Linked DNA regions of Homo sapiens: region 1 is linked to region 2. Evidence: fine-mapped expression QTL. A gene starts in region 2. The other region holds a variant in brackets. All regions are shown on one strand. Distances are from middle to middle.

Region 1 (5,364 bases), 140 kb after region 2:
GTCCTGTGGAGGCCAAGATGAAGACCTCACCCTCCTGCCTTCTCCTGTATGTGGGTGGGGGGGCTCCTGTGGAGGGCCAGTGGGCTCACTCAGAGAGCTGGCTCAGGATCTGGGAGCTGACCGTCCAGATGGGGCCCTCCTGCCTACCTCAGCCTTCCTCCTCCTAAGACACAGCCACCAGGTGACCTGTCCCAAGCCCAAATCTAGACATGCTACCCCCCGCCCTGAACCCATGCATTGTTCCCTTGCCTGCAACAGGAGCCCCTCAGCCTGATGGGCCCTGGGGCTTCTGAAGCCCCTGCCTCAAGCCTTTACCTGAACCCAGAATATTCTACCCATGCTCAATGGCAGTGGTGCCTCCTCCCAGCTCCAGGCCTGTGTTCCCGGCTCACTCCACCTTGTACCCCTCGCCCACCTCCACACCAGGTGCCTGGCGTGCAGTGGGTGCTCAGTAAGTGTGTGCTCACTGAATGCACAGAATGCCCTTCCTGAGCAGCTTGGTGGACCAGGGGTGGTCTGGATCACAGAGGTGTTTACCTCCTACTCGGCTCCCAGCCAGCACCTACAGGAACCTCAGTCTCTTTAGCTGGGAAAGGGGGACAGTGCTAGCCCTTATCCCCAGGCTGGCTGTGAAAACCTCACAGTGCCTGGAGCGGCTTCTGTGAGCCATGAAGAGCTTCTGGCGCCTTTTTTTCCTACAGTGGGGAGTGAAGAGTACAGTGTAGGAGAGTGCAGAGGGTCTGGGAACAAGCTTCCATCTCTCTCGGTCCCTCCAAGACCCACATCTTACACCACTATTGGCCACTCCTTCAGGGAATCTATTTATCCACTACAAATGGATCTGTGCCCCACCCGTTCCAGACCCCCCAAGTCCTCCACCAGCCATCTCAACAGAACAGCCTGGACTTTAAGTATGAGGGGAACTTAAAAACTCTGGGAGAAGCTAGCGCAGTGGCTCACACCTGTAATCCCAGCACTTTGGGAGGCTGAGGCAGGAGGATCACTTGAGACCAGGAGCTTGAGACCAGCCTAGGTAACATAGCGAGATGCCGTCTCCACAAAATTTTTTTAAAAAATTAACCAAGCATGGTGACACGTGCCTGTAATACTAGCTACTTGGGAGACTGAGGTGGGAGAATTGCTTGAGCCTAAGAGGTTGAGGCTGCGGGCAGTGAGCCATGTGCCCGCCACTGCACTCCAGCCCGGATGACAGAGTGAGAACCTGACTCAAACAAAATAAAAACAAAAACAACTCTGGGAAGATGGTTAGGAGGCAGGACTGGAGATGTGCTTGGTGCAGAAGGTCTGGCTAATCAGAATTTGAATTCTGAGGCCGGGCACAATGGCTCATGCCTGTAATCCCAGCACTTTGGAAGGCCGAGGCGGGCAGATCACGAGGTCAAGAGATTGAGACCATCCTGAACAACATGGTGAAACCCCGTTTCTACTAAAAATACAAAAATCAGCTGAGCGTGATGGTGCATGCCTGTAATCCCAGCTACTTGAGAGGCTGAAGCAGGAAAATAGCTTGAACCCAGGAGACAGAGGTTGCAGTGAGCCGAGATCAAGCCACTGCACTCTAGCCTGGGCGACAGAGGAGACTCCATCTCAAAAAAAAAAAAAAAAAAGAAATTTGAATTTTGAGACCGACTCTGAGGGGCCTGAGGTGGTCAGGGGGCATCCTGAGAGAGCCAGCAGGGAGGGTACCCGCCAGCAGCGAGAGTGCTGCCCCCAGGAAGCCCCCTCCCTTCATTGCCACCTGCATCTGTGAGGTCTGGGCCCTGGATTTCCATTACCTGAGCAGTGGGCAAGGCTGAGCAGGCTGTAGAGAAGGTTCCCATGGGGGACTCTCAGGGATGGGGAGAGTGAGGTGTGAGAGGAACTGAGGCCAAAAGAGGCTGGGTGACAGGCAGGGGAGGTGGGGGGCTCTGAAAGGACCAACTGCCTTGAGGCTCAAGCCTCAAGAGGCAAAGCTGAACACAGGGATTACTGGGGTTTTGATGGCTGAAGCACTTTGTGAAGCTCTGGGGTGGCCTGGAGCCTGGCAGCAGTGAGGTGGTTTTCCGCAACACAGGGCTGGGGAGGAGGCTTGTGGCCTAGGCTGGAGGCAGGACCGTGATCTGCCTGGACAGGGCGCACGGGGCCTGTAGCACAGGCCTGGAGGCAGGACGGGTGGTCTCACCCCACCTCTGCTCTCCTGTGACACTGAGCTCCCATCACCCTGGTCCCTTCCCCTACCCATGGTCCCTCCCAAGGCTAAAGATGGTCTAGGCCTCCTTGGATCCCCCAAGAGCCCCAAATGTCCAGACAGGGCTCCTTCCCCCAGGGAGAGATGTGGCAGGTGCCCCCAGCATCTCTCCCCTCCACACCCCCTACCCCAGTGTGTTCTCTCCTGGCCTGGGTGAGGACAACAAATGGGACACAGTGGGCACATGCTTCGCAAAAATAATGAGAGGGAAGAATGTGAAAATGAGAGCCTAGGATTCAGGCCTGGAGAGCACAGTCATCTAAACAGACGAGGCTCTAATAGCAGGATCTCAACCCCTCCAGCTGAAAACGACCAGGAACACACATGCAGTTTAACAAAGTTGGAGTTATTCTGGGTTTATTGACTCGTTGTAGTAAGGGGGATGCAACCATGGGAGTTGCGGGGCATCCCAGAAAGAGTGTGTGGGAAAGGACTTCACAGATTCAAGCTGGTGTTAGGGGATTTGGGAAAGGGTTTGAGGAAACAGGCTTTGCTCTGGGTTAGATGACAGCGGGAGGCTGGCTTAGAATCAGCATTCTAAGAGTCGGTATCATAGGAGTTCTCATCGAGAAGGCAGGAATGATGGTCACTAATAAAGAAGCAGCAGTCACTCATATTAGCCAGGAAAGGGAGTTTGGTCATTTTTGTGGTTTGGACAATGACTATGTTTTATCTGTGTTCACACACTTTACAGAGTGGTCAGAGAGTGGTGTTGTGAATGACACCAGGGTCCAGCTGTGGCCGCCAGCTCCTGGCCACCAGGGGCCGCTTTTCTTTCTTGGTAGCTTCAGACAGTGACCGAGAAGAGATGAAAGGGACAGATGTTACTCACACAGCACATGCCAGGCACTGTGCTCAACACTAGACAGACCTTGCTCACGTAATCTTCACCACAGCCCTCTCCTCATTGTACAGATGAGGAAACTGAGGTTCAGAGAGGGAAGGTGCCCATCAGAGTCCAGAAGGACTGGCAAAACTAGAATGTAAACCCAGCTTATGTTCCCCTTGTTCCAAAGTCCCTTTCACCCCCTTGCCCTTGCCTAGAGGCTGAGCCTCTGCTCGTTCCTCGGAGCCACGTGGTCCTGAATAGTGTCCCTTGGACACCCCCGCTAGGCACATCTTCCTGAAGGGGTTCAG[C/A]CTGTCCATGGCAGGCCAGCCGCAGTGTCAGCAGCCGCCCCAGCCCAGGAGGGTCCCCCGTGCCTAGAGGTGTGAAGGGTAATGAGGCCCCGTAATTAAGGTTTCTGAAGACATGGCTGGGAGATTTATAGACAGGCTTTGTCAATAATTGTGCTACCGGCTGCAGATCCAGCGAGACATCGGTAAGTGCTCGTTACAGCTTCTCCCTGCTCCCTGCCCTGCCCCCGCACCACCCCTCCTGAGCCATCAGCCTGCCTGTTCACAGCGCCTATGTACACAGGCTTCGCTCAATTAATTTGCACTTGTTGGCGCCATCTGTTCTTTTCATGTGTCCTTATCAGGAGTGTGTGCGTCCTGCCTCCTGCTCAGATGTGACAGTGCAACCCTCCTCATACATATAGGGGCTTCCTGGGCAGGCTCACATCTCCCCTCTCAGACTGGGCTCCTCAGGGTGGGACACTGTCTCCCCCCTCAGTCTAGGACCCCTGAAGGCAAGGCCAAGTCTTCATCTTCCTTCACCTCCCCCTCAACACCCACAGCCTCTCTCTGCTGAGCCAAGCTTGGCCTGGACCCTAGCAAAACCTTCTGAGTCTGACCCCACCAGGCAGGGCCTCAGCCCTCCAGAGGAAGCCCCCAGACCCCAAACCAAACAATGCCCTGGAAGGCTGGCTGCCTCTGGGTGCTGGGAGGTAGGGTGTTTGTTCTGATCCCCACTCTGGCTCCCATAGCCTGAGCTTTGGCAGGTTCTTGTTACGAGAACAGTGACATCTTTGAGTCACAGGGGTGGGAAGGGGCTAAGAAGCCACTTGGAAGTCTCTGTTTCCCTTGAGCAGCATTGGTTAAGGGTGGTACAGGGGCCAAGGCTTGGACAGCTCCTAGAGTGGGGTGGGTCATGGCCTGGTGGCTCCAGGATGCCAGGGCAGGTGGCCCACCCAGATAACTGAGAAAAGGCAGCACCTCAAGGATGCTTTCCCTTGGCTCTCTCCCCATCCCGAGGTTTTGGGCAGCCAACATCCCAGCCTACTCTTCTCTGGGTCATTCTGTCTTCCAGAAGGCCTCTCAGTCCCTTCCAACCCCAGCACAGATTTCTTTCTTTCTTTCTTTCTTTTTTTTTTTTTTTTTTTTTGAGACAGAGTCTCACTCTGTCATCCAGGCTGGAGTACAGTGGCGCGATCTCAGCTCACTGCAACCTCCGCCTCCCCGGGTTCAAGCGATTCTCCTGCCTCAGCCTCCCAAGTGTCTGGGATTACTGGTGCTGGCCGCGATGCTCCGCTAATTTTTATGTTTTTGGTAGAGACGGGGTTTCGCCATATTGGCCAGGATGGTCTCGAACACCTGACCTCAGGTGATTAGCCCAGCACAGATTTCTAACCCCGGAGGGCTATGAATGCTGAGCTGGCCCTGCCACAGAAGTGCTAGGCAACTTCTTACCCTGTCTGGGCTCTGGGTCCTGCATAGCACATTGGATTTGTTTAGAATGCAACCAGACCTTATTCTGGGAGGGTCACAAGCATGCTTGGTGCCAGCATCCAGGCCCAGCCCAGTCCACTTTGCCTGCCTATAACAGGCTTGACAGCTGGGCCTTGGACTTACATCCAAGGTCCCATGACTGAACCCTGCAGCCGCTCCAGTCTCATCTCCTACCAGCCCCTCCTTGCCGCGTGTCCTGTCTGCACTCCCACGGTGTTCCAGGCTGCTGCTCACCTCCACACCTGTGCTCCTGCTGTTCCCTGTGCTAGGACTGTGTCTCCTCCTTATGCCTGTATCACCTGACAAACTCCTACTCATCCTTCAAAACCCATCTCCCGCTCTGACATACCCTCCAATACACCCTTGCCTGCACCCCAGGGTGAGGAGGGGGCTGGCTGGGGGGCTCCCCCGCTACTGCATTTGCCATACTGATTTACTATGCCACACTGCCTGCTCTCACATCGACTAGAATACAAGCTACTTGGGGACAGAGACCCCAAGCCTTGGCC
Region 2 (5,364 bases):
AGACTGTCTCGATTTTAGCATGGAAAGTCCCATGTCCCAGAAAACCCATCAGTTCCAGGTGAACCAGGACTGTTGGCTGGTCACCCTACAAGCTGCCAGGGACCCACAGGAGACAGGGCCAGGACTCACAGGAGGGGCTCCCAAGCTTGGCCTCCTAGTTCTGGGGACAGTCAGGGCCGCACATACTCACCAAGGGTCCCCATCTCAGGCCTGAGCCCAATTTAGAGGAGGCCAGGAGAGGGGAGATGGCAGCCCAGACAGCCCACAGGAAGCTCCCAGCCTGAAAAGATCAGGGAGCCCGACTTCTGACTTGTCTCCCTGCCTGCTGGCATGATCTCCTGTGAGGTGGGCTTTACAGAAAGAACTTGAGCTCTGACAGCAAGAGAAGAGCAGAGGGGCAACCCAGGAGGTCATACGCCCCATCCTCAGAGGCCTGCACAACTGCTCCTGGGCTCTGCTGAGGAGCAGGCCCACCTGTCCCACTGTGAGACACCTTGGAGAGTCAATAGTCCTTGGCTGAGATCCTGGCGGCCTTATTGTCCTTCCTGGTGGAAGCGGGTATGGCCACACCTTGCAGGCAGTGGCAGGACCTGAGCAGACCAGGAAGATACATCAGTGACCAGCACGCACAGTCTCATTTCTGCCCAGGTGGGCTGGTCCCTCCCACTTTTCCCGCCCTCAGCCCCCCACATCTGTTTTGAGGTGGGAGTCTGAGCTTAGTGTTTGGCTGTCATTAAGGTCTTAGGTAGGGAATGAGGGGACAGACTCCCTGCCCCCAGAAGGCTGCTGACATACTCACCCACCCAACAGAGCATGGGTCTCCTACACTGTATGAAATATTCTCTAAAATGTCTTGGGCATGCCCCTTCCCTAGCCTGGGCCCAAAGGCCCTATCTGTAAGTTGATGAGGAGATGAAGTGGGTGAGCTCTAAAATGCTTCCTTCTGATGACCACCCAACTTGTCCATCATGCCATGAAGGGGGCGCTTACAGAGTGTCTTCCCTGTGCTGGAGATCAATAGCACCTGGGAAGTTAAGGCCTCTGCCCTCAGTGGGCTTCCTCTCTAGTAAGGGGTCGCACATTAAGCACGCATGAATAAATAATCACAGCTTATAGGAGGAGCTATGAAGAAAAGTCAGGAATGTCTGAGAGAACAGTCACTGGGAACTGAGGGCTGAGGAGGTGCTTGTACTCTGACCCTGATGTGCTTGCAAGGAGGGAGGTGGGGTGGGAACTATGAGCTCCTCAGAGCACCCTGGAGGTAAAGCTGGTGGCACAGACTTTGTGCAGGTGAGGGTGTGTGTATGGGCTGTGCAGAACATAGTGAAGCCCCCTCCACCAGGAAGCCCTCCCTGACTGACACTGAGGTCACTGAGTCTCCCCTCTGGTTTACTGAACCCTGGATGTGTTTCTTGCAGCCTCTGGTTGGCCCACCAAATTCAGGACTTTCCTAGAAATTCTCCAGCACAGTCAGGATGATGCAAGAGAGGGCTTCCTCTGCAGGGGAAAGAGAGGGTGCTCTCCATTGGACCATAATAATATCCTCAGCATCAGACTCGGGTGTTTTGCAGGCAGCATGCTGGGGACTTCTGTGGCCTTGCTTGGTGACAGGGAATGGGGTGTGATGAGCTGGGGCAGGCTTCCTGGGGATGCTTTCAGCCAAAGATGAGCCCTGTCTGCCCTTGGCCCTGCTGAGAGGGTAAGTTGAGTCATGAGCAGAATTCAACCAGTTATCAGATGGAAGGCCAAGGAAGCTTGGGGAGGGCTACTGAGGGGATACGGTAGGCTTGTCTGTGGAGAGCAAAATTCTTCAGTCTACAAAGTTCTTTTCTGGGCTCCTTCATCTTTCGGTTTCTCTTCCAGCTCCCTCGTTTTGGGCCTCTTTTGTTTCCCCATTCCCCTCCCCTGGGCCTTCCCGTTTGGAAAAGGGGTCACATATCCTCACCCTGGAGGCGTCTGCCCCTTCCACACAGTTGGTGTTGGAACAGTGGAGCTCAGAGAGGCCGATGCTGACCGCGTAGATGTCCAGCACCAACAGTGGGATTTTGGGCCCTGTGGGGGACACAGAGAGAACTCTCCGGGAGTGCGGCCCCTTGGCCTCCCCTCTGGGTGCCCAGTGGGCAGTGGGCCTGGGTGGCTCAGAATCCCAGCCAGGAGCACTGAAGGTCAACAGGCTCCCGCCCTGAGTTTTCTGAGCCAGGCCTCCCTGTTTCCTCCCCAGCCAGTGGGGAGCGCAGTGAGGGGCGGGGCCTGGAGTCTTGGGAGCTCCCTGGACAACAACATGCATTTAGCGCAGCTCAGTCTCAGAGCCAGCAGGATATGTTTTCTTAAAAAAAAAAAAAATGCCTAACATCTTGGCTTTCACCGAAGGGTTGGTATCTGCTTTGTACACTTTGGCCTTCTTGGCTTTTCACTGAAACACACACACATGGATGCACACTCACTTCCACACACAAACCCACACCAAGACAGACACACACACACACTCACACACAAACTCATGTACATGGTTTCATACCCACATCCATGCAAACACACATACAAATCCAGAAATACGCACCCTCACACCCACAAACTTGTACACACACACACACGTATACACACCAACACACATACAACCCTGGCTTGGACAAAAGCTTCCCGTTTTTTCTTGTTTGAAGTGGAAATCTCCCACCTTCCATGAGATTCAATTTCTCGCCCTTCCCCCGCTAAAATCCTCCTGGCCCCATCATTTCTTGGGTCCTTTCCAGACAGTGCTGTGTCTTTAAGGAAGTTGAAGCTGCTAAAAGTGAGTGAGAGAGAGAGAAAAAACACAACCCAAAAAAATTTGGCATCTCTTCCCCCCTCAAGTTTCTGGTGTCACTTATGAAACACAGGTCCTTGTTGCTGCAGAGAAGCAGTTGTTTTGCTGGAAGGAGGGAGTGCGCGGGCTGCCCCGGGCTCCTCCCTGCCGCCTCCTCTCAGTGGATGGTTCCAGGCACCCTGTCTGGGGCAGGGAGGGCACAGGCCTGCACATCGAAGGTGGGGTGGGACCAGGCTGCCCCTCGCCCCAGCATCCAAGTCCTCCCTTGGGCGCCCGTGGCCCTGCAGACTCTCAGGGCTAAGGTCCTCTGTTGCTTTTTGGTTCCACCTTAGAAGAGGCTCCGCTTGACTAAGAGTAGCTTGAAGGTAAGCCAGTGGGGAGGAGGGCTCCAGGGCCAGCGGCGGGAGCGGGAGGCCTGTTGGACATAGGGGCTGGTTCCCTCTTGGTCCATCCCTGCTGGTCTGAGGTGCGTGGGACAATCCCTAGCTTGGAGCCGTCCAGGGGGCATCTGCTTCTTCCACAACCCACAACTGAGGCCCCAGAAATCCCAGCTGCGTTTGGGCTGAGCCTCTGGCCTCACCCAAGTCAGCTGAGAGGTCCTGGCGGGGGTTTATTTAGGCAGCTGCCTGGCTAAGTTTGAACAGAACAGGCCACGGGTGTGATTCCACAGAAAAGGCCTGGTGTCTGCTGCGGTCATGGCCGGAGGAGCGGGAGAGGGCGGGTGGAGTGGATGGGGGTGGTGTGCACTGCACAAGGGGCCTCGTCTGGGCCAAGGCAAAGCATACCTATGGGGGGCTCCGGTGGGAGGGACTGCGGCCAGGATGTGGGAGGGCAGGGGGAGGTTCTGCAAAGTGCTGGGGGAGGGGGGTGGCTGGAAAACAGATTTCAAGTCATAAAGTCAGCTAGGAACAGGCCGAGGCAGGGAGAACTCTCCACTCGGAGGAGGAGCTGGGGTCCTCTTCCATCCCGTCTTCATCCTGCCTGGCTGCGTGACCTCGGGCAAGTCTCCGCCCTTCTCTTGGCCTCAGTTTCTCCTTCCGTAGGATGGGGGCGGTGGGCTAGGTGGTGTTGGGATTTAGCTGGGTTATGTGGGACAGGGCCTCCTGATGGGAAAGAGCTCTGGCTGGGCTTGTGGGAGGAATGAGTCCCTTTGGCAGGTTCTCGGGATCCCCTGGGTGACATGCCTTTCTCTGCAGGAGGCACCATGCAGGAGCTGCATCTGCTCTGGTGGGCGCTTCTCCTGGGCCTGGCTCAGGCCTGCCCTGAGCCCTGCGACTGTGGGGAAAAGTATGGCTTCCAGATCGCCGACTGTGCCTACCGCGACCTAGAATCCGTGCCGCCTGGCTTCCCGGCCAATGTGACTACACTGAGCCTGTCAGCCAACCGGCTGCCAGGCTTGCCGGAGGGTGCCTTCAGGGAGGTGCCCCTGCTGCAGTCGCTGTGGCTGGCACACAATGAGATCCGCACGGTGGCCGCCGGAGCCCTGGCCTCTCTGAGCCATCTCAAGAGCCTGGACCTCAGCCACAATCTCATCTCTGACTTTGCCTGGAGCGACCTGCACAACCTCAGTGCCCTCCAATTGCTCAAGATGGACAGCAACGAGCTGACCTTCATCCCCCGCGACGCCTTCCGCAGCCTCCGTGCTCTGCGCTCGCTGCAACTCAACCACAACCGCTTGCACACATTGGCCGAGGGCACCTTCACCCCGCTCACCGCGCTGTCCCACCTGCAGATCAACGAGAACCCCTTCGACTGCACCTGCGGCATCGTGTGGCTCAAGACATGGGCCCTGACCACGGCCGTGTCCATCCCGGAGCAGGACAACATCGCCTGCACCTCACCCCATGTGCTCAAGGGTACGCCGCTGAGCCGCCTGCCGCCACTGCCATGCTCGGCGCCCTCAGTGCAGCTCAGCTACCAACCCAGCCAGGATGGTGCCGAGCTGCGGCCTGGTTTTGTGCTGGCACTGCACTGTGATGTGGACGGGCAGCCGGCCCCTCAGCTTCACTGGCACATCCAGATACCCAGTGGCATTGTGGAGATCACCAGCCCCAACGTGGGCACTGATGGGCGTGCCCTGCCTGGCACCCCTGTGGCCAGCTCCCAGCCGCGCTTCCAGGCCTTTGCCAATGGCAGCCTGCTTATCCCCGACTTTGGCAAGCTGGAGGAAGGCACCTACAGCTGCCTGGCCACCAATGAGCTGGGCAGTGCTGAGAGCTCAGTGGACGTGGCACTGGCCACGCCCGGTGAGGGTGGTGAGGACACACTGGGGCGCAGGTTCCATGGCAAAGCGGTTGAGGGAAAGGGCTGCTATACGGTTGACAACGAGGTGCAGCCATCAGGGCCGGAGGACAATGTGGTCATCATCTACCTCAGCCGTGCTGGGAACCCTGAGGCTGCAGTCGCAGAAGGGGTCCCTGGGCAGCTGCCCCCAGGCCTGCTCCTGCTGGGCCAAAGCCTCCTCCTCTTCTTCTTCCTCACCTCCTTCTAGCCCCACCCAGGGCTTCCCTAACTCCTCCCCTTGCCCCTACCAATGCCCCTTTAAGTGCTGCAGGGGTCTG

Direction of the effects. Positions count from the first base shown, and alleles are read on the strand shown. Sizes are in standard deviations (SD) of each study's normalised expression.
In carriers of allele C in region 1, the expression in tibial artery of the gene that starts at base 2,859 in region 2 tends to be higher than with A alone (small effect, 0.14 SD a copy in GTEx).

The links. PIP is the estimated chance that this variant, and not a neighbour inherited with it, causes the effect.
Region 1: its variant is the best candidate, but not a certain one, in a credible set for the expression of ISLR in tibial artery (GTEx, PIP 0.68).

The regions. Positions count from the first base shown.
Region 1 is chr15:74,308,926-74,314,289 of GRCh38, forward strand. The region is part of intron 11 of CCDC33 (coiled-coil domain containing 33); the gene reads left to right. CCDC33-AS1 (CCDC33 antisense RNA 1) reads right to left here. Exons shown (of 2, transcript XR_007064711.1): 2 at 2,589-3,033. Among named protein-coding and RNA genes, the nearest start is that of CCDC33-AS1, 8.1 kb to the right of the region's middle. The variant C/A (reference allele first, on the strand shown) is at 3,386.
Region 2 is chr15:74,170,852-74,176,215 of GRCh38, forward strand. It overlaps ISLR (immunoglobulin superfamily containing leucine rich repeat), which reads left to right and starts at 2,859. Exons shown (of 2, transcript NM_005545.4): 1 at 2,859-3,168; 2 at 4,000-5,364. The coding sequence starts at 4,008. The coding sequence ends at 5,294. RefSeq lists enhancers at 1,604-2,592, 2,593-3,580, 3,581-4,569.